Linked DNA regions of Homo sapiens. The protein of the gene in region 1 interacts with the protein of each later gene in a biochemical or structural test. Each region holds a gene or a part of one and is shown in the gene's direction. Other genes may lie near its edges.

Region 1 (3,500 bases):
CCTGATAGCAAATCAGGATTAGGGTTAGTGCCAAGTCACAATGTGAACCCCAAAACCTTGATGTCATTCCAAACCCTAATGAAAACCTCAAAATCCAGCCAGTCATGGTGGCTCACACCTGTAATCCCAGCACTTTGGGAGACCGAGGCAGGCAGATTGCCTGAGGTCAGGAGTTAGAGACCAACCTGGCCAACATGGTGAAAACCCATCTCTACTAAAAATACAAAAAAAATTAGCCGGGTGTGGTGACGCATGCCTGTAATTCCAGCTACTCGGGAGGCTGAAGCAGGAGAATCACTTGAACCCAGGAGGCAGAGGTTGCAGTGAGCCAAGAGTGTGCCACAGCACTCCAGCCTGGGTGACAGAGCAAGACTCTGTCTCAAAAAAAAAAAAAAAAGCCAGGCGCAGTGGCTCACGCCTGTAATCCCAGCACTTTGGGAGGCCAAGGCGGGTGGATCACGAGGTCAGGAGATCAAGACCATCCTGGCTAACACAGTGAAACCCCGTCTACTAAAAATACAAAAAAAAAAAAAAAATTAGCTGGGCGTGGTGGCGGGTACCTGTAGTCCCAGCTACTTGGGAGGCTGAGGCAGGAGAATGGCGTGAACCCCGGGGGGCGGAGCTTGCAGTGAGCCGAGATAGTGCCACTGCACTCCAGCCTGGACGACAGAGCGAGACTCCGTCTCCAAAAATAAAATAAACACCTGAAAATCCCAGTATCCCCTAAGCTCTGATGTAAATTGACAAACCCTGACATTGTCCCAAACCTCCAAATAAACCCGAGCCCCGATACCATCTACAAACTCCTTTTCGTCCTCAGATCTTCTTACTCCCTAAGCCCCTATGTGAACCCCAAGCCCACTGTTTTCCTAACCCTGATGTAATCCCTAAACCTCACACATCCCCAACTTACCCGCACACCCCAATGTGCCCCTCTAGACACGAATCGTCCTGGACTGTGGGGAAGATGACGTATGTGTGCCCCAGCTTCAGCTCACTGCCAGCGTGTGAGGAGGCCTCCCATTCTGCCCGACCCTGGCCCTTTCTGCCTATCATACCTGCTCCACACCTTAGTCCCCTCTTTTCCCACATCCTGGGCCCAGACCCAGGCTCCCTGGCTTCACTCCTCTTTCCCCACAGGACGGGCTCCCCGCTCCTAGTTGGGGCAGATAATGTCCTGGAGCTGCAGATGGACGCAGCCAACGAGGGCGAGGGGGCCTATGAAGCAGAGCTGGCCGTGCACCTGCCCCAGGGCGCCCACTACATGCGGGCCCTAAGCAATGTCGAGGTATGGCCCCCACCCTGGGAACAGTACCCGGGACCTGGGAGGCACTGGAGCCTTGGCTCTCTCATCTCCCTCCCTGAGAGTCCCTCTTCTCTTCTGCTTTGCTGTCAAAGATGTAATTTTTTATTTTTTTTTTAATTTGGAGGAGGAATACTTGCTAATGGCACAGAATTCCAAAACTCTATTACAAAAACCAGAAAAACAAAAAAGGTTTAGGAACCAAATGTTAACAGGAACCTCTGTTAACATTTGGTGGATTTCCTTCCAGTCTTTTTTTCAATATTGACTCACACTCACATAAGTATATATTTATTTTTTATGTTGTTAATATAGTTTATAATAATGGGGGTCATACTCTAATGTTTTGTGTTTTTTATTTCCAAAATGAAAATGCCTAAAAAGTAGTAGTGCTACAGCAATACACACACTAGCATGTGACAGTCCCTTGAGACCCCACCCCAAGAAACCCCCCCCTCCCTACCTTGGCACACAAATCTTTCCAGACCTTCCAAGGGAGCTTAAATATATATATATGATGCTCTGTAATTTCTTTCTTGGAACTGCCTTCCTGAAGGGCTTTGAGAGACTCATCTGTAATCAGAAGAAGGAGAATGAGACCAGGGTGGTGCTGTGTGAGCTGGGCAACCCCATGAAGAAGAACGCCCAGGTGAGGCTGCTGGGTCGTGGTACCGGGTCTCCACCAGGGGCTCATGAATAACCAGATTTTAGGGGTGAGGTTTTAGAGCCACATAGTTCTGGGCCAGAATCTTGGTCCTCACACTCCCTTGCCACATGTCCTTGGGTGAGTGACTTTCCCTCTCTGAGCCCCTTTACCCAGTGGGCTTCCAGGTAAAATAGAAATAATAATGGTGGCCTGGTGCGGTGGCTCACGCCTGTAATCCCAGCACTCTGGGAGGCCGAGACGGGTGGATCACGAGGTCAGGAGTTCAAGACCAGCCTGGCCAACATAGCAAAACCCCGTCTCTACTAAAAATACAAAAATTACCCGGGCATGGTGGCGCACGCCTATAGTCAGAGCTACTCGGGAGGTTGAGGCAGAAAAATCACTTGAACCTGGGAGGTGGAGGTTGCAGTGAGCCGAGATCATGCCACTGCACTCCAGCCTGGGTGACAGAGTGAGACTCCGTCTCGGAAAAAAAAAAAAAGAAAAAGAATAGTGGTGATCTTGGAGGGTGAAGACTGGAGGCCACATTCAGGGCAGGGCTGTCCTAAGTGGGGCACTTGGGCAGTGACCTTGGCCCTCCTCATCTCCCAGATAGGAATCGCGATGTTGGTGAGCGTGGGGAATCTGGAAGAGGCTGGGGAGTCTGTGTCCTTCCAGCTGCAGATACGGAGGTACTGACCTGGCGAGCGTGCCTACCCACCACCCTTCCCCCGTCTGACCCCCGTGCAGAGCCCCTCAGGTCCCTTCCATACAGAAGGGTCTTTCGAGGCCAGGCGCAGTGGCTCACACCTGTAATCCCAGCACGTTGCGAGGCCAAGGCAGAAGGATCACTGGAGGTCAGGAGTTGGAGACCAGCCTGGCCAACATGGTGAAACCCCATCTCTACTAAAAATATAAAAATTAGCTGGGCATGGTGGTGCGCACCTACAATCCCAGCTACTCGGGAGGCTGAGGCAGGAGAATAGCTTGAACCGAACCTGGGAGGTGGAGGTTGCAGTGAGCTGAGATTGGGCCACTGCACTCCAGCCTTCCAGCCTGGGCGACAGTGCGAGATTCTATCTCAAAAGAAAAAAAAAAAGGTCTTTGAAGAAGCCTGGTTCCCTTTCTTCCTCAGAGATTTATGTCTGAGTCTTGGAGCCCTAGAGGAAGTTCTTTCCCAGGTCTAACTTCAGTGTGGCATGCTCTTTGTATAATTAGCTCTCTCTGAACTCTCTAAAATTCTGGCCTCACCCCCAGAAAGTCACTGGGCTGGTGTCCCTGGCCCTGTTTCTCCTCATCCCCTCCCCTCTAGCAAGAACAGCCAGAATCCAAACAGCAAGATTGTGCTGCTGGACGTGCCGGTCCGGGCAGAGGCCCAAGTGGAGCTGCGAGGGTGAGAGGCCAGGGGTGGAGAAGGGAGATGGCATTCAGGGCTCTAAACTCCAGGGGGCGCTGGGGAAACCTCACAGGCCAATCAGGGCATCACACTCTCTCTGGGGGTCTTGGGCACCTGCAGGAACTCCTTTCCAGCCTCCCTGGTGGTGGCAGCAG
Region 2 (3,599 bases), on another chromosome or scaffold:
AGGTGTAATCCACTGCGCCCAGCCTCATTTGTTAAATTACGTACTCAACAGACATTTTACAAAGTTCCTGCTACGTGCCAGGCACTATATCAGGTGCTGGGGATTTTAAGAGAATCAAATACAGTCTCTGCCTTCAAGGAATTCAAAATCTCAAAAGAGAACAAAAATACAAAATATTAAAATGATTGCGGCCGGGTGTGGTGGCTCAAGCCTGTAATCCTAGCACTTTGGGAGCTGAGGTGGGCGCCCAGGCCAGGGGTTTGAGACCATCCTGGCCAACATAGTGAAACCCCCAACCTCTACTAAAAATACAAAAATTAGCTGGGGTGTGGTGGCACGCGCCTGTAATCCTAGCTACTAGGGAGGCTGATGGGGGAGAATTTCTTGAATCTGGGAGGCAGAGGTTGCAGTGAGCTGAGATCATGCCACTGCACTTCAGTCTCGGCAACAGAACAAGACTCATCTCAAAATACATAAATAAAAATAAATAATTCAATAAAGTGATTGCAAGAAAAGTTCTGTTCAAGGCACCAAGAGACCACAGGAAAATGAGTGTCTGGTTTGCCAGAAAAATGAGAGATGGCTTCCCAGGAGAGGCAGAGTTCTGCCTGGCCTGGTGGGATGCATGGATGAACAAACAAGTGGGCATTCCAGTCAGAAGAAACAATCCGTGGAAAGACCCAGAGGCATGAGAAGCTGAGCTAGCAGGGACAGGTAGACCAGGGCCAGTTGAAAAGGACCTTCATCACTTTTTCATCCTGCTGGCCAAGAGAAGCCACAGAATGGAAGCTCCATGAGGGCAGGGCTGTGACTGTCCTATTGGTTGATGTGTACTGAGCACCCGACAGTGCCTGTCATATGGTAGGCACTTAGCGAATATTTGGAGGCCACTGTTGAGTGAATGGGAGAACTGCTGGTTGCAGAGGAAGAGGGGCTGGGTGAATGCAGGTTCAGGATTGTGGACCTGCATGAGCTGGGAGGTGGGGGATAGACAACTTTGCAGGGAGAGAGGAAATAAGTCCCCAGGCTCCAAGGCTGACCGGGGTGGGGTCTCCGCAGGTAACTGTGCTGAGGGTCTGGGTACGAACTACCGAGGGCATGTGAACATCACCCGGTCAGGCATTGAGTGCCAGCTATGGAGGAGTCGCTACCCACATAAGCCTGAGTGAGTGAGGGGCCGGCCTTCCCACCATGGGCTGAGAACAGGGAGCAAGCGTACCTCAAGCCCAACAGCCTCCTGTTGGGCAATTTCCTGTTCCAGAATCAACTCCACTACCCATCCTGGGGCCGACCTACAGGAGAATTTCTGCCGCAACCCCGACAGCAGCACCACGGGACCCTGGTGCTACACTACAGACCCCACCGTGAGGAGGCAGGAATGCAGCATCCCTGTCTGTGGTAAGCTGGGGGCAGTGGGGCGGCCCATGGCCAAGGCCCGGGGGCTTCATGGGGCCTGGCAGCCTGGGATGGGAACCAAGAATACTGGCTACCCAGGCACAGTGGCTCATGCCCGTAATCCCAGCACTTTGGGAGGCTGAGGCAGGCAGATCACCTGAGGTCAGGGGTTTGAGACCAGCTGGGCCAACATGGCAAAACCCCGTCTCTACTAAAAATACAAAAATTGCCAGGCGTGGTGGTGGGCGCCTGTAATCCCAACTACTCTGGAGGCTGAGGCACGAGAATCGCTTGAACCCGGGAGGCGGAGTTTGCAGTGAGCTGAGATCCTGCCACTGTACTTCAGCCTGGGCGACAAGAGCAAAACTCTGTCTCAAAGAAAAAAAAAAGATGCTGGCCACCTTCAGAGCTGGCGTCAGTCATTCAGATCATATCTGTGCCTATTGCTCAGTAAAGTCAGGGAATCAGGGGATCTGAGTGGGGGGATCTGCCAGCCTCCTCCTCCCCCTCCCCACTCTTGACTTCCTTATGGTCCAGGCTGTGGCTCATTCCAAACATGCCTCCTTTCTGATCAAGGCACTCCTCCCTCCGGGAAGCCCTCCCTAGCCATTTCAGTCCACACACCCTGTTCTGAGTATCACAGAGCAAGCCTTGTGCAGTTTGGCCCTGCGGGATTCTGTCATTATTATTTCCTTGGTGTGTTAAGTAGCTATAGCCACCCCTTCCCTGAGGCAGACCACAATAAGCATTTCTTTTTCCCATGAGGGTTGGCAGGTGTGGCTGCACTCGCTAATGCGTCTGTAGGGTCAACTGACGGAGGTTGGCCCTGGCTGGGTGGCTCTGATTCAAATAATGGGTCCAGCTGAGTCTGGCTCCTCGTTGAGGGTTGGGCCTAGATCTGCTCCACGTGCGTTCATGCTGGGGCTGAGGCTGAAAGAAGGTACCTGGGAAAACTCTTCTTATGCTGATGACAGACACAGAAAACAATGAACAGAAAAGCGTCTTCTGTCCTGAAGGCCTGGCTCAGAACAGGCACAGTCAGCCCTGCCCACGTTCCATTGGCCAGAGCAAGTATATGTTCAAGGCCAGGGTCAAGAGGTAAACTACACCTCAGCCTGTAAAATCACAGAGCAAGGGATGTGGATGCAGGCAGGGGTAAAGAATTTGTGCCGATTACCAGTCCACAAACATGGGTTAGTGTTTGTTCTCTAGGCATCCCTGTCGGGCCCATTGCTCATTCCTGGGGTTGGTCTTTTTTTTTTTTCTTTCTAAGATGGAGTCTCACTCCCTTGCCCAGGCTGTTGGAGTGCAGTGGCCCTATCTCAGCTCACTGCAACCTCCGCCTCCTGGGTTCAAGCGATTCCCCTGCTTCAGCCTCCTGAGTAGCTAGGATTACAGGCGTGTGCCACCACTCCTGGCTAATTTTTTTTTATGTTAGTAGAGACGGGGTTTCACCATGTTGGCCAGGCTGATCTCAAACTCCTGACCTTGTGATCCTCCCGCCTCGGCCTCCCAAACTGCTGAGATTACAGGGGTGAGGCACTGCGCCCGGCCTTTTTTTTTTTTTTTTTTGAGATGGAGTCTCACTCTGTCACCCAGGCTGGAGTGCAGTGGCATAATCTTGGCTCACTGCAACCTCCACCTCCTGGGTTCAGGCGATTCTCTGCCTCAGCCTCTCATATAGCTGGGATTACAGGCACACGCCACCACGCCTGGCTAATTTTTGTATTTTTAGTAGAGACGGGGTTTCTTCATGTTGGCCTGGCTGATCTTGAACTCCTGACCTCCGGTGATCTGCCCAGCTCGGCCTCCCAAAGTTCTGGGATTACAGGTGTAAGCCACTGCGCCTGGCCCCTGGAATTGGTCTTATAGCAAGTTTATCCCAACAAAAACAGCTACTATTTACTCCCCAACCCCCATACACACGCACACACATTGATGATAAATAAGTTGCAGGCTTGCAGAAATTGACCCATCCAGGTGAACAGCCTAGTGATCCCAGCAAGCGTCCTGCTGTGCAGCTATAAAAACATGACTCCTCCAGCAGCTCCAGGCAGCCACTACCAGTTAATTACAGATGGCCTAGGAGGCCAAACCTGGTTACTATCTCTGGTTTATTATGTGCCAGACACTTATGCTGTATATTTTGTTTAATCCTCTCAACAAACCTGCAAAAGTGGCATTAGTAACCCCTTTAAAGGCAA
Region 3 (3,599 bases), on another chromosome or scaffold:
CTCTTGCTTTCCTCTTAAATGCCAATCTGGAGAGTCTCCGTTAGGAGAAATGGACCCCAGCCAGGAAGAAGAGTTGAGTTGTATTTAAAACACGAGCTCCCCCTAAAGCATCCTTCTTTAGCTTCTAAGGAGAGGCAGAGACTGACAGGCAGGACTCAGCAGGAAAAGGTACCCCCCTGACCTGCTCAGTCAGGCCCTAGGCCCAGCTCCACCCAGCCTGTGGCCCCCAGAGTTTCGGTAAAGAGTTCCCTGGGCCTTAAGGAACCTTGAGAGAGCATTTGAGGGGTGCCACCACAAACTTGGCAGAAAAAACCCTCCCCCTCCAAGTCCAGTCCTAGAGAAGGAGCTGGCAACCTTGCCTTGCTTTGTAAGCAAAAGCCTCTTAGGGCTTGAGCTCAGATGTAGTGTTTGAGCTGTGGCTGGTGCCCTGCCCCATCAGGGAGCCAATGGTAGACATCCTATGGGCATCTTTGTTTTCCGTAAGAGCAGGCTGTCTGGGGATGGGCCAGAGGAAGAGGCAACCTGGAGTCAACCAAGAGGAGGCCTTAACCAAGCCTTAACCACAGAGGTTAACCAAGCCTTGAAAGCGCTTCCCCCTGAGCAGGCAGGAAGCACTGAGTCCACATGGTTGCCTCGCTGTTTCATTTCCTTACACTCAATTCTCTCAGTCTTTAAATGATCACTTGGCCTTGAAGTTACGGATATTTGGGGTCTGAACTGAAGTTGAAGAAAAGAGAAAATGATTTAAGCTTTGTTTAAGATTAGGGGCCAGGTGCGGTGGCTCACGCCTGTAATCCCAGCACCTTGGGAGCCTGAGGCGGGTGGATCACCTGAGGTCAGGAGTTCCAGACCAGCCTGGCCAACATAGCAAAACCCAGTCTCTACTAAAAATAACAATAAAAAAAATAGCCAGGTGTGGTGACACATGCCTGTAATCCCAGTTACTCAGGAGGCTGAGGCAGAATTGCTTGAACTTGAGAGGTGGAGGTTGTAGTGAGCCAAGACCGCACCACTGCACTCCAGCCTGGCGACAGAGCCAGACTCCGTCTCAAAAACAACAACAAAAAAAGATTAGAAGAAGCCCATTACTGCCTTCTGGCCACCCACTCGCACAGACACCAAAACTGCAGCCCACACCTCGCCATCCTCGTGCTCTGCCCTGGGACACCCCAGGCACAGTGTGTCCTTCGTTTTCTGTAAGGGTGGGCTGGGAGCAGGGACGGACAGGGCCTGTGGGCACCTCTCATGGTCACTTCCTTCTTGCTCACAGGGTGCCCGAGGCAACGATGGTCAGCCAGGCCCCGCAGGGCCTCCGGTAAGTTCATTTCATCCTCAGCAGGTCATTGTTGCTGTGCTTTAAGTCCCGTTAAGCAGCCCAAGGCAGTCTGCAGGGTGTATTGGGTGCAACCACAGCAGCACTCTGATGTCTACTGGAAAGGGGGAGGAAAGAGAAGAAGTTTGTAAATATCAATTGAGCATATCGATAACAAGCTTTGAAGCATGGGCTCATTTTCCTCAGCCATCCTTTCAGCAGTCTTTTTAGAGGAGGGAGGTCAAAGGAGTTTCTGCTTCTCACCACAGATGTAGTCAGAAACTTGCTTTGCCTTCTGAAGCCAGGCAAAGTTTCCTGGGGACGCTGGCAATGGGGACAATTTTCATCCAAGGCCTTTTAGCCACAATGGATATGGAGTGAAATCAGTACAGAGGAGGGAAGGAGTGTGAGGTGTCGGGGTGGCTCGCTTTGGAGGCCAGAACTGGCATTCACCTCTCTTCTCATCCGCCTACTCTCTCCAGGGTCCTGTCGGTCCTGCTGGTGGTCCTGGCTTCCCTGGTGCTCCTGGAGCCAAGGTACGTGCCCTGTTGTCCAGTCAGGAACTTCTGGGTGCCGAGAAGCTGTCCTTTCCCCGTAACCCTTGCTCATTGCTCCCTCAACAACCACCTGCTCCCTTCTGAGAAGTAGCTCCCCACCACCCCACCCACTGGCCCCTCCATCCAGGCAGGGCAAAAAGCCAGACACTCGCAGTCTCACCTGGAGGGAAAGTAAGACAGAAGATAAAATGTGGGAGATCCAGTTACAACTTTGGAGTGGGGAAAGGTGGACAGAGAAGAAGACGGGGATACACCATAGGCCTGGCAGGGGCAGAAGGCCAGGAGTGGCAGCACAGGGAAGCAAACCTAGGGGAGACCCAACAGCTGAGCAAGCTCGGGGCCCTGACGGGCACTGGAGGGAACTGGGCAGGGAAAAGGGCACAGGCAGGGAGCCCCTGCTCCCCTCTGGGTTTCTGCTTTATTTGGGGTGCCTGGCTCTTCCAAACCATGTTAACGGAGTTCTCTGGAGGATTACTAGAGGCCAGTGGGAGGCCAGCCAGTTCAGGGACAGGCCTCGCAGCCCAGGAAGGATTCCAGTGTGAACGTCCCTGGGAATGAATAAGGAGCCTCCATGTGTCACTGGCATCAGGTTGCTTTTCCCCTCCTGGGGGTTTCCATGGCAACCAGACAGTGTCTGAGGTCCCGGAGCCGGGTGAAGGAGACCCATTGTGAAGAGGGACAGCGGAAGGTGAGGGGGGCTGACCTTTTGAAAATAATAATTACCACAGTGAAGCAGGAATGTTCTGAGAAGAAACCTGAGGAGGCTCTGCCCTCTCTCCAGGTCAGCAGCCCTCCCCAGGGACTCTGCCATCTAGAGTGGGTTGTAATTTTCAGGAAAAAATGAAAGTAAAAGCACAAGCCATTTTGTGGGGAGGGGGCTTGCCAGAGGCGCCCGCTAAGGGGAATTGGGCTGTATTGAGAGCAGGGAGGGGCAGAGTCCCCATGTGCTTTTGCCTTGGCTTTCTGGCTTACTGAGAACAGACTGGGGCCGGAGCCAGGGTGTCACTGTTCACCCGTCAGCCAGATGGGAGTGAGGTGGTGCTCTGAGCTGGGATGTTCAGAGACTTAGAAGGGACCTCAGCTCCTCAATAAAATAGAAAAACAGGAGGTGGGGGAGAGAGCGGTGTCCGTCCATCATCCCACGGTGCCAGGATGGCAGGGTCCCCAGCCCACGCTTTTCTGATGGTGTCGATGGAACAGCAGGTTGCCCATTGCTGTAGTATGTAGCTGTGCCGTGGCATGTGGAGGCTCACTGTGTAGAGATGAGGTAAGCAGTAGAGGAGGCAGGCGTGGGAAGTCATCAAGTCATCAGCTCGGTCAGGCAGGGAGAAAAACGGCAGCGTGAACTGTGTGTGAACGCACATGTTCATGTGCAGGGTTGGGTGCATGTGCATAATTTAGTGCTGTGCTTGCAGCTGGCCCTGAGCTATTGCCCACCCACTAGAGGTCTGTGTCCCCTCTCTTCTTCTTCATTTCATCCTCCCTGTCTCTTCCCAGGGTGAAGCCGGCCCCACTGGTGCCCGTGGTCCTGAAGGTGCTCAAGGTCCTCGCGGTGAACCTGGTACTCCTGGGTCCCCTGGGCCTGCTGGTGCCTCCGTAAGTGCAGCTTCTCTTTGGCCTGGGGGGGTCTGGGGTCTGTGGCTTTGGAACTCTTGACTCTGTACTTTGCTCTGACAGTTGTGGGCTCCAACCACCAAACCTTCATTCTGGCCCAATGCCTGTCCCCACCT
Region 4 (3,599 bases), on another chromosome or scaffold:
GCAATGGCGCGATCTGAGCCCACTGCAACCTCTGCCTCCCGGGTTCAAGCAATTCTCCTGCCTCAGCCTCCTGAGTAGCTGGGATTACAGGCATGTGCCACCACGCCCAGCTAATTTTGTATTTTTAGTAGAGACAGGGTTTCTCCATGTTGGTCAGGCTGGTCTCAAACTCCCAACCTCAGGTGATCTGCCTGTCTCAGCCTCCCAAAGTGCTGGGATTACAGGCGTGAGCCACTGCACCCAGCCACCATCTACCACTTTCTAGCTCCATGAGGGCTCTTCTCTCTGAATGCTGAGGGAAAGCTCTGGAGACAGGTAGTGGGGGTGGCTCCCCACAAGGCCATGTGGGATTACTGGCAGGCAGATAACCAGCAATGCCAAAGGGCAAGTGTACAGGGCCCCTCGGTGGCAGCAAACCCAGGAACATCAGGGGGTTGAAGGCAGCTCTGTCCACATTGGCCACCCTGGTGCACTGGACTCAGCACTGAAACCAATGGCTGAGTTGGCAGTGAAGTAGTTAATCTCATGGGATGTGGGGGCAGGCAAGTGACCTCAGACCTGATCAGTCTTCTCCTCTGTACAGTGGGAATAACAGCAGCTCCCACCCCACAGGGTGAGAACGAAGCATAGAAAATACTCAGCAAGGGGCTGGTCCCTTGTAGCCCTAGGTGGTGGTTAAAAGGACAAGTCCATAATGCAAGAATCTGTCAGGCTGCGCATTTAAGATTTGAGCACTCAGTGTATCTCCTATATTTGTTTTTGGGGTTTTTTTATTATTACTTTTTTTTTTGAGACAGGGCCTCACTCTGTCACCCAGCCTGCAGTGTAATGGCTCAGTCACGGCTCACTGCAGGCTCTATGTCCCGGGCTTGAACAATCCTCCCACCTCTGCCTCCTGAGTAGCTGGGACTACAGGTGCATACCACCACACCTGGCTAATGTTTTTATTTTTTGTAGAGGGTTTTGATGTTGTCCAGGCTGGTCTCGAATTCCTGTATTCAAGCAATCCCCCCAACTCGGCCTCCCAGAGTATTATTATTTTTTTGAGAAAGAGTCTCACTCTTGCTCAGGCTGGAGTGTAGTGGTGTGATCATAGCTCACTGCAACCTCAATCTCCTGGGCTTTAAGCAATCTTCCTGCCTCAGCCTCCTGCTTAGCTGAAACTGCGGGCATGGGCCACTATGCTCAGCTAATTTTTTAATTGTTTTATTTTTTGTAGAGATTGGGTCTTGCTATGTTGCCAAGGCTGGTCTCTAATTCCAGGCCTCAAGCGATCCTCCAACCTCGGCCTTCTAAAGCACTGGGATTACAGGCATGAGCCACCGTTCCCGGCTCTCCCTATGTGTGTGTGTGTGTGTGTGTATATATATATATATATATATATATATATATATATTTTTTTTTTTTTTTTTTTTTTTTTTTTTGAGACAGAGTCTCACTCTGTCGCCTAGGCTGGAGTGCAGTGGCATGATCTCAGCTCACTGTAACCTCTGCCTCCCAAGTTCAAGAGATTTTCCTGCCCCAGCCTCCCAAATAGCTGGGATTACAGGCATGCGCCACCGTGCCCAGCTAATTTTTGTATTTTTAGTAGAGACGGGGTTTCACCATGTTGGCCAGGCTGGTTTCAAACTCCTGACCTCAAGTGATCTGCCTGCCTCGGCCTCCCAAAGTGCTGGGATTATAGACGTGAGCCACCATGCCCGATCGCTCCCCATATTTTCTTTTCTTTTTTCTTTTTTTTTTCTTAGACGAGTCTTGCTCTGTCACCCAGGCTGGAGTGCAGTGGTGCAATCTCGGCTCACTGCAACCTCAGTCTCCCGGATTCAAGCAATTCTCCTGCCTCAGCCTCCCAGGTAGCTAGGATTACAGGCACACATCACCACCACGCCTGGCTAATTTTTTTGTTTTGTTTTGGAGACAGAGTCTCGCCCCGTCGCCTAGGCTGGAGTGCAATGGCATGATCTCAGCTCACTGCAACTTCTGCCTCCCGGGTCGAAGCGATTCTCCTGCCACCATGCCCGGCTGATTTTTTTGTACTTTTAGTAGAAACGGGGTTTTACCATGTTGACCACGCTGGTCTTGAACTCCTGACCTCAAGTGATCTACCCGCCTTGGCCTCCCAAAGTGCTGGGATTATAGGTGTGACCCACCGTGCCTGGCCTCATTTTTTTATTTTTAGTAGAGATGGGGTTTCGCCATGTTGGCCAGGCTGGTCTCGAACTCCTGACCTTGTGATCCACCCACCTTGGCCTCCCAGAGTGCTGGGATTACAGACGTCAGCCACCTCACCCAGCCTCTCTCCCCATATTTTATACCTCAATTTAGAAAATAATAGGCTGGGCACGGTGGCTCATGCCTGTAATCCCAGCACTTTGGGAGGCCAAGGTGGGCAGATCACCTGAGGTCAGGAGTTCGAGACCAGCCTAGCCAACATGGCAAAACCCTGTCTCTACTAAACATACCAAAATTAGCTGGGCGTGGTGGCAGGTGTCTGTAATCCCAGCTACTCAGGAGGCTGAGGCAGGAGAATCATCTGAACCTGGGAGGCGGAGGTTGCAGTGAGCTGAGATTGTGCCACTGCACTCCAGCCTGGGCAACAAAGTGGGACTCCATCTCAAAAAAAAAAATAATAATAATTAAAAAAAATAAATTGGCCGGGCATGGTGGCTCACGCCTGTAATCCCAGCACTTTGGGAGGCCGAGGCGGGTGGATCACGAGGTCAGGAGATCGAGACCATCCTGGCTAACACGGTGAAACCCCGTCTCCACTAAAAAAAATACAAAAAATTCTCTGGGCGTGGTGGCAGGCGTCTGTAGTCCCAGCTACTCAGGAGGCTGAGGCAGGAGAATGGCGTGAGCACGGGAGGCGGAGCTTGCAGTGAGCGGAGATTGCGCCACTGCATTCCAGCCTGGGCGACAGAGGGAGACTCCGTCTCAATCAATCAATCAATCAATCAGTCAATAGATAGATAAATAAAAAATAATAATAGCTGACATTTATCTGGCACTATCATCACACGGGGCCACTGTTCAACTCCCTTTGTCAAGATGAACTCATTCATTCCTCAAAACCACCCCACTTTACAGATGAGGAAAACTGAGGCCTAGAGAGGTGAGATCAGTTACCCAAAGTCACAGAGTTCATCAGAGACCAGGCTGGGCTCTGAACTGGATCTTGACCCCAAGTCCTGGCCCTTAGCCACTTTGCTGGGCTGTGTCTCAGCAGAGACGAGAATGACTGTTTTCAAGCCTGTTTCCTGGGTTGTTAAGTGGAGACAATGGATACAAGGCAGGTTGCCGAGTGAGTCAGATGAGACAGTGTAGACAGCAGCCGGCACAGGGTCTGCCGGGGAAGTTTCAACATTAGCCAGGCGGTGATGTTCACCTTGGGATACCATGGGGCCGAGGAGTGGGCATCGGGCGAGACTTCCCTTGAACCAGCTCTGGAGCAATGCCCTTGCGATTGCCACGGAGAGGAACAGGGCCAGCTGGGGGCCAAGGTGACAGCTGAGCCCCCCAAGGGCACCTGCTACCCGAGCCCCCGAGGCCTCCATCCCAGGCCCGGCCTCCCCAGAGAAGGGGCCAGAGGAACAGCCAAA
Region 5 (3,599 bases), on another chromosome or scaffold:
CCTGCTGGTTGGGTACCCCCCGTTCTGGGATGAGGACCAGCACCGCCTGTACCAGCAGATCAAAGCCGGCGCCTATGATGTGAGTGTCGCTCCTCTCTTCAGCTCCCATCATCCTCTGGTGCCCTTCCAGTGAAAGCCAGCGCCAAGCCACTCTCTAGTTCTGGCACAGGGGTGAACCCCAGGGGAGCATGAAGACTGACCAGGGCCAGGTGGTTACCATGCTGTGCCTAATGATTGGAGATTTATCTTGCCCCAGAAGGCAAGAAGCAGCACCAAAATGGAGTGAGGAGTAGGGGAGAGGCGCCTCCCAAGCCAGGGTTTCTCTGTTTCTCTCTCATATATACAAATAATAATAGCTAACAATTCTATAGCACTCTCTGAATGTTTTACACATATTATTACATTTAATCCTCACACCAATCTATGATATAGGTGCTGTTATTATTCCCATTTTACATATAGAGAAGCTGACATACAGAGAGGTCAAGTAACTGCCTAGATCACACAGCTAAGAAATGGTAGAGGTGGGATTTGAACCAGGCAGTCTGGCTCTACCATCCATGCTTCTAACTACCAAGCTATATTGCTTTTATGCAGATAGCTATTAAGCTCTGTGCCGTATGTTTTATATTGTATTTAATTCTCACAACATCTCTAGAGATAGCTCAAGAGGTCATGTGACTTACCCAGGTTACACAGCCCAGGAGGCAGAGCCAGGACTTGAATCCAGGCCTTTTGATTCTGAAGTCTGGGCTAAAGCCACTGACCGGCTGCTCTGCAAATAAGGCACAGTCTCAGAAAGATGGTTGGAGGGAGGCCTCCTTTCCCTCTGCCGTGTTCTGATTTGTATGGGGCTAGGGCCCTCCCCTGCAGTGAGGAGCCCCAACTCCTCCTGGTGTGGATGTCCGAGTGGATGGGCAGTAGGACCCCTGCCTGCTCCCCTGCCAGTCAGGGGCTGGGGGATCGCAGGGGTGGCCTGGGGCAGGCTGGGCAAACCTGGCCTCTCTGCCCCTTCCAGTTCCCATCGCCGGAATGGGACACTGTCACCCCGGAAGCCAAGGATCTGATCAATAAGATGCTGACCATTAACCCATCCAAACGCATCACAGCTGCCGAAGCCCTTAAGCACCCCTGGATCTCGGTGAGCCTTCCTCAGCAGGACTTCTCCCAGGAGCCCCTCCAGACCTCATGATCCAGGCCCCCACAGAGTTCTGGCCCTTCCCCTGGCCCATGGGGCCAAGAGGGCTTAATCCAAGAGACTGCCCCTGCTGTGGTTCTCAGGGGTAATGTGGAAACGAGGAGTGAGTGTTCTGGGTTGGCATACAACTGATGGTGCTACTGGCATTGAATGTCTGGTGCCAGGATGCTAAACACCCTGAAGCATCTCCTAGAGCAATGAATCGTTCTTCCCAAGATGTCAACCACACCTCCATTAAGATGCCCTGCTGAAGGGTACCCTTGGGTGGGCCTGTCTTCCAGCCTGCCTTCCACTCACAGCCCTCTCCCCTACTTCCTCCAGCACCGCTCCACCGTGGCATCCTGCATGCACAGACAGGAGACCGTGGACTGCCTGAAGAAGTTCAATGCCAGGAGGAAACTGAAGGTAACAGGTCCTCACCCTCCACAGTCCTGGCCATGGGACTAGCTCTGCCTGGGTCTCCACAGAGGCCAGGAGACTCGCTCACTAATTCTTTCCTTCATTGATTCAATAAGCATTTATTGAACACCTACTGCATACTGGACAGCAGGTTGGGCTTGGGGAGTGAGCGGTGAATGACTGAGCCCTTGCTCTAGTGGAGAGGACAGACAAGTTCCTGGGGCGTTATGGGGCAGTGGTGAGTGCCATGCCTGGGAAAGCCTCAAGATGGTGGCAGAATGCAGCAGGACAATGGTATTCTGGGTCTGGAGCCAGGGGCGTTTAAGCTGAGACCTTGGAGGATAAGCAGGTATTAGCCAAGTTAGAGTCAGAATGGGAAAGTGTGGCCGGGCGCAGTGACTCATGCCTGTAATCCCAACACTTTGGGAGGCTGAGGTGGGCAGATCACCTGAGGTCAGAAGTTCAAGACCAGCCTGGCCAATGAGGTGAAACCCTGTCTCTACCAAAAATACAAAAATTAGCCAGGCATGGTGGCACATACCTGTAATCCCAGCTACTCAGGAGGCTGAGGCAGGAAAATTGCTTGAACCTGGGAGGCGGAGGTTGCAGTGAGTGAGATCGTGCCATTGCACTCCAGCCTGAGTAACAGAGAGAGACTCTGTCTCAAAAAAAAAAAAACAAAAAAAAGAATGGGAACGTGTTCCAGACAGAGGAAGCAGCCTGTGCAGAAGTTTGGAAGTGCGCCTGACCCCTTAGGGGCACCACAAGTGGTTCAGAGTGGCTGGGGAGAGCTTTTGGGGGTGAGACATGACTGAACGTGAGACCCTGGTCAGGGAGGCGCCCCAGCTGCCCAGTACTGTGGAGGAATGGCTGAGGCACTCAGACAGTGATTGTGGCCCTGAGGAAGCTCAGTGGCACCCAGGTGGTCCCAGAGCTTCACACTCTTGCAGGTTCTGTGTGCTCTCAGGGTGGTGACAGCTCCTGGCCTGGCCTTTGCCAGGCACTGAGGGGCCCCTGGCCAGTGGAACAGAGGAGCCGTCAGCACGCTGGGGATGATGAGGGAAGAGGCGGAGGCCCCAGCTCTTGTGGAACCTCCTTATCTGCTGCTCCCAGGCCTGGAGTGGAGGCTTAGGATGGGGACACAGACCAAGGGGTGGTGGCCAGCATGATGCCAGGAGAACTGAGTCCCATCCCCATCCTGCAGTGGAAGCTGTGTCACAGAGGAAGTCTCAAAATATCAGAATCAGGGATTCTTAACATCATAAGCAGTGGGATTCAGACAGTGTCAAGTCAGGTCTGAATCAGATGGCTCTGGAACAAAAGGGGCCATTAGCCCCCAGCCTGCTTGTTGATGGAGGAGGCTTTCTCTACATTGAGAATCCTCCTGGGATTCAAAAGATTATAAATCATGGTGCTATAAAGACACATGCACACATATATTTATTGCGGCACTACTCACAATAGCAAAGACTTGGAACCAACCCAAATGTCCAACAATGATCGACTGGATTAAGAAAATGTGGCACATATACACCGTGGAATACTATGCAGCCATAAAAAATGATGAGTTCCTGTCCTTTGTAGGGACATGGATGAAGCTGGAAACCATCATTCTCAGCAAACTATCGCAAGGACAAAAAAACAAACAGCGCATGTTCTCACTCATGGATGGGAATTGAACAATGAGAACACTTGGACACAGGAAGGGGAACATCACACACCGGGGCCTGTTGTGGGGTGGGGGGAGGGGGGAGGGATAGCATTAGGAGATATACCTAATGTAAATGACGAGTTAATGGGTGCAGCACACCAACGTGGCACATGTATACATATGTAACAAACCTGCACGTTGTGCACATGTACCCTAGAACTTAAAGTATTATATAATATATATATATATATAAAATAAAAAACTTGGAAATAAAAAAAAAAAAGAGAAAATCCTCCTGGGATTCTCTGAGCCCAGGGGCCATGGAGGGATGAGCTAGTCCTGGAGCAAGAT
Region 6 (3,599 bases), on another chromosome or scaffold:
AGACTCTGTGTAAAAATAATAATAATAATCACTGATTAGCTATTAGCACATTACCTTCTAGTCGCTTTTCCCTATGAATATATAATTCTTAAAATATCCTTCTTATAAGCTGTAGAGTCATTTGAGGGACTAGTTTGCTCTGATTAGTTACCTTTTCTTTTCATTTCAAAGATCTTCCAAGCACAGCCACTTCTGTGAACATCCCTGACCTGCTTCCTGGCCGAAAATACATTGTAAATGTCTATCAGATATCTGAGGATGGGGAGCAGAGTTTGATCCTGTCTACTTCACAAACAACAGGTACATGTGTGCTACATAGTGTTAAAAGAATCTTTTTCTGTAAAACACAGGCCTGTAGTAGCACTTCCTGACTGTTTGCCCCACTTTCTTTCTTTCTTAGCGCCTGATGCCCCTCCTGACACGACTGTGGACCAAGTTGATGACACCTCAATTGTTGTTCGCTGGAGCAGACCCCAGGCTCCCATCACAGGTCAGCTAAGCGTCCCCCTCTTTGGCTGCTATGTTAATCTTAATGACATCAGCAGGGAGGGCGCAGATTCTGACTGCGGACCTGCATATCACTTTAAATCTCCAATATAATTTATGGGAGAGGGGTTTGTGTGTGTGTGTGTGTGTGTGTGTGGCGGGGGTGGGGGAGTTATTTTCTATGGCACATTTCCCCTTGAAACCATTTCACCAACTCCCTTATACACACACACCACAACATACACACAACCTGTAAAGCCAGCTCATTGGCTTATTAAAGCAAGTGTTCCCAGGGTTGAAGAGGTGTAATTTCCTGAAAACGTTGCTCTAAGATTTATCCTTAAGGAGAAAGCTGAGCTGTCGTCTTAGCTCATTAGGTGATTCAACTGCCTCATCACTGAAGTTCCAAAAAGACACACACAGTGCTAGACAACTCTGCTTAGGCTGGTTCATTAATTGCTTCCCTCGTCTGGAGCTCAAAGAGGAAAAATCAGCTTAACATGAATATTTTCACCTAATGGCATCTCTAATTGACATTTATTAAGGATGTCAGGTCTTCAAGGATGACATTTATTATTAAAAAGGTTCGCATGACTGTTCTTATTTTATCTTCGTGCTGAATAGTCATTATTAGAAGAAGTGGCAATATTCAAAGAGTCAAAAAGTATCACTGGCTCTTCACTAATCAAGCAAGATGCTAAGGGATATTAGAAAAGGGAGGATTTATGGTGTTTCTAAGCCTCTGTCTCAAAGAAAACAGTGCATCTTACTTTTGCTCATGAATCTGCAGGGTACAGAATAGTCTATTCGCCATCAGTAGAAGGTAGCAGCACAGAACTCAACCTTCCTGAAACTGCAAACTCCGTCACCCTCAGTGACTTGCAACCTGGTGTTCAGTATAACATCACTATCTATGCTGTGGAAGAAAATCAAGAAAGTACACCTGTTGTCATTCAACAAGAAACCACTGGCACCCCACGCTCAGGTAACTTTTTTAAGAAGACACTTCCTATGTTATCTTATCAGGATTGTTCCTGAAGGAGGGTTGTTTTGTCTCTGTCAACAGTCCTCTCATTCAAGAAATCTTATATATTAGTTTTTCCCTAAACTTCTGATATTTAGCTGAAATGTCATAAGTAACTTATCAAAGCTGGCTACTGGCCTTTCTGATTAAAAACTGACACCATAACGTCCATCTACAAATTTTCCCCTAGAAGCTTAAGGGTCATTTCATTTTTGATTCTTAAGTATTATAAAATGATTCAGTAAAACAAAAACTGTTACATTATTTTCTGCAGTTATTTCAAAGGCTTTTTCTAAAAAATTTTTTAGTATCTTTTCTTATAACCCTCTCCCCCCACCACCATATGACACTTCATATGCTGGTAACTCACTTATTACCTATTTTAGATAAAAGGTTCAAATGTCATAATTTAAGCACTATGACTGGACCATGAAAATGTGATCTGATTAAGAGACAAAACTTAGCAAAACTCTCGAATGAGAGGCTCAATGAACTGCCTAACATATCCAAGAAACTGGCTTCTTAAAAGTAATCTTCAGCAGAGAATGTGAATGACCAGTTGACTCTTGTCTGTCAGATACAGTGCCCTCTCCCAGGGACCTGCAGTTTGTGGAAGTGACAGACGTGAAGGTCACCATCATGTGGACACCGCCTGAGAGTGCAGTGACCGGCTACCGTGTGGATGTGATCCCCGTCAACCTGCCTGGCGAGCACGGGCAGAGGCTGCCCATCAGCAGGAACACCTTTGCAGAAGTCACCGGGCTGTCCCCTGGGGTCACCTATTACTTCAAAGTCTTTGCAGTGAGCCATGGGAGGGAGAGCAAGCCTCTGACTGCTCAACAGACAACCAGTATGTCTTCTCCTATCTCTATCTCCCCTCCAAATTCTCCACCCTCACTTGCAGCCTGTGAGAAAGTGCAGTAAACCATTCACTCAGAGGTGTATGGCTTAGAGAGAGGGAAATACCCAGCCGGCAAGGGAATGCATAGTGAACACAAAGCACATTAAACTTGAAAACAAAACTCAGACAAGCTCCATGGATGCTAAGTGGTAACCCATTTCTAAAATACATGTACCAGCTGAAGGGTACTAAGAGGGGAGAACTGAAGAGAATCTAATTTGAGTGCATTTTTCGTGTAACTAAATATATCTAGATCAAAGTTAAAATGCAGGATCATAACACTTAGAGTAGAATTCATTTAACAATAGCAATTGTCAAGTGTCTAGTATTACTAGCCACCAGCTTATCTGCTCAGTTTTTACAAGCATTATTCTCATATTTACTCTTTGTTTTGACCTTAGGAAGGAAGGTCTTATTATTATTATTTTATTTATTTATTTTTTTGAGATGGAGTCTCGCTCTGTCGCCAGGGCTGGAGTACAGTGGCACCATCTCAGCTCACTGGAACCTCTACCACCTGGGTTCAAGCAATTCTCCTGCCTCAGCCTCCCGAGTAGCTGGGACTACAGGCGTGTGCCACCATGCCCTGCTAATTTTTGTGTTTTTAGTAGAAATGGGTTTCGCTGTGTTGGCCAAGCTGGTCTGAAACTCCTGACCTCAAGTGATCCACCCACTTTGGCCTCCCAAAGTGCTGGGATTACAGGCGTGAGCCATCGTGCCCAGCCGGAAGGTCTTACTAGTATCCGTATTGAATACTTAAAGAAACTGAGGCTTTAAAAAAGTTCTGCAACTTGTAGGGTCACAGAGATAGGAAGGGATAGAGCTGGCTCTATAACCTATGTCCGAAGCCCATGCTCTCAATTATTATACTCGACTGCCTCTTAAAGATTTCCTCTATTTGAAAGGTAATTTAAATTTCGGTGGGAAAACTGCTGGTTATTATTCTCAAGAATAAACTCCACAACTTATGTGATTCTGATAGTGCAAACTCACCAGTATCCTACCATGAATCTGAGGATACGTTATCATTACTGTAATTACTGTCTAATCTGAACCATGTGAAAATAACTTTTATTTCTCTAGCAAAGGGCTATTCACAGAATATTGCTTTTGACCCATAGAGAGCTTCTTCTTGCTGTCATTTTAGGAGGCATATCCCTTTTTCCTTAATCTGTTTGGCTCAGAGCT

Evidence for each region.
Region 2: the proteins of ITGA2B (region 1) and F2 form a complex in vitro, tested with the Homo sapiens proteins (one study listed by BioGRID).
Region 3: the proteins of ITGA2B (region 1) and COL2A1 form a complex in vitro, tested with the Homo sapiens proteins (one study listed by BioGRID).
Region 4: of the proteins of ITGA2B (region 1) and PRKACA, one has a biochemical effect on the other in vitro, tested with the Homo sapiens proteins (one study listed by BioGRID).
Region 5: of the proteins of ITGA2B (region 1) and CAMK2A, one has a biochemical effect on the other in vitro, tested with the Homo sapiens proteins (one study listed by BioGRID).
Region 6: the proteins of ITGA2B (region 1) and FN1 form a complex in vitro, tested with the Homo sapiens proteins (one study listed by BioGRID).

What each region holds. Positions count from the first base shown.
Region 1 is NC_000017.11:44,376,150-44,379,649, reverse strand, and holds part of ITGA2B (integrin alpha-IIb preproprotein), read left to right. Parts: intron 1-939; coding exon 940-1,007; intron 1,008-1,140; coding exon 1,141-1,288; intron 1,289-1,859; coding exon 1,860-1,952; intron 1,953-2,561; coding exon 2,562-2,641; intron 2,642-3,261; coding exon 3,262-3,342; intron 3,343-3,465; coding exon 3,466-3,500. UniProt on the Homo sapiens protein: Integrin alpha-IIb/beta-3 is a receptor for fibronectin, fibrinogen, plasminogen, prothrombin, thrombospondin and vitronectin. It recognizes the sequence R-G-D in a wide array of ligands.
Region 2 is NC_000011.10:46,722,121-46,725,719, forward strand, and holds part of F2 (prothrombin preproprotein), read left to right. Parts: intron 1-1,059; coding exon 1,060-1,165; intron 1,166-1,261; coding exon 1,262-1,398; intron 1,399-3,599. UniProt on the Homo sapiens protein: Thrombin, which cleaves bonds after Arg and Lys, converts fibrinogen to fibrin and activates factors V, VII, VIII, XIII, and, in complex with thrombomodulin, protein C. Functions in blood homeostasis, inflammation and wound healing.
Region 3 is NC_000012.12:47,987,477-47,991,075, reverse strand, and holds part of COL2A1 (collagen alpha-1(II) chain isoform 1 precursor), read left to right. Parts: intron 1-1,270; coding exon 1,271-1,315; intron 1,316-1,794; coding exon 1,795-1,848; intron 1,849-3,366; coding exon 3,367-3,465; intron 3,466-3,599. UniProt on the Homo sapiens protein: Type II collagen is specific for cartilaginous tissues. It is essential for the normal embryonic development of the skeleton, for linear growth and for the ability of cartilage to resist compressive forces.
Region 4 is NC_000019.10:14,107,763-14,111,361, reverse strand, and holds part of PRKACA (cAMP-dependent protein kinase catalytic subunit alpha), read left to right. Parts: intron 1-2,971; exon of another isoform or gene 2,972-3,377; coding exon of another isoform or gene 3,378-3,599.
Region 5 is NC_000005.10:150,248,230-150,251,828, reverse strand, and holds part of CAMK2A (calcium/calmodulin-dependent protein kinase type II subunit alpha), read left to right. Parts: coding exon 1-79; intron 80-1,018; coding exon 1,019-1,141; intron 1,142-1,519; coding exon 1,520-1,603; intron 1,604-3,599. UniProt on the Homo sapiens protein: Calcium/calmodulin-dependent protein kinase that functions autonomously after Ca(2+)/calmodulin-binding and autophosphorylation, and is involved in various processes, such as synaptic plasticity, neurotransmitter release and long-term potentiation.
Region 6 is NC_000002.12:215,404,999-215,408,597, reverse strand, and holds part of FN1 (fibronectin isoform 1 precursor), read left to right. Parts: intron 1-171; coding exon 172-300; intron 301-400; coding exon 401-490; intron 491-1,276; coding exon 1,277-1,471; intron 1,472-2,087; coding exon 2,088-2,360; intron 2,361-3,599. UniProt on the Homo sapiens protein: Fibronectins bind cell surfaces and various compounds including collagen, fibrin, heparin, DNA, and actin. Fibronectins are involved in cell adhesion, cell motility, opsonization, wound healing, and maintenance of cell shape.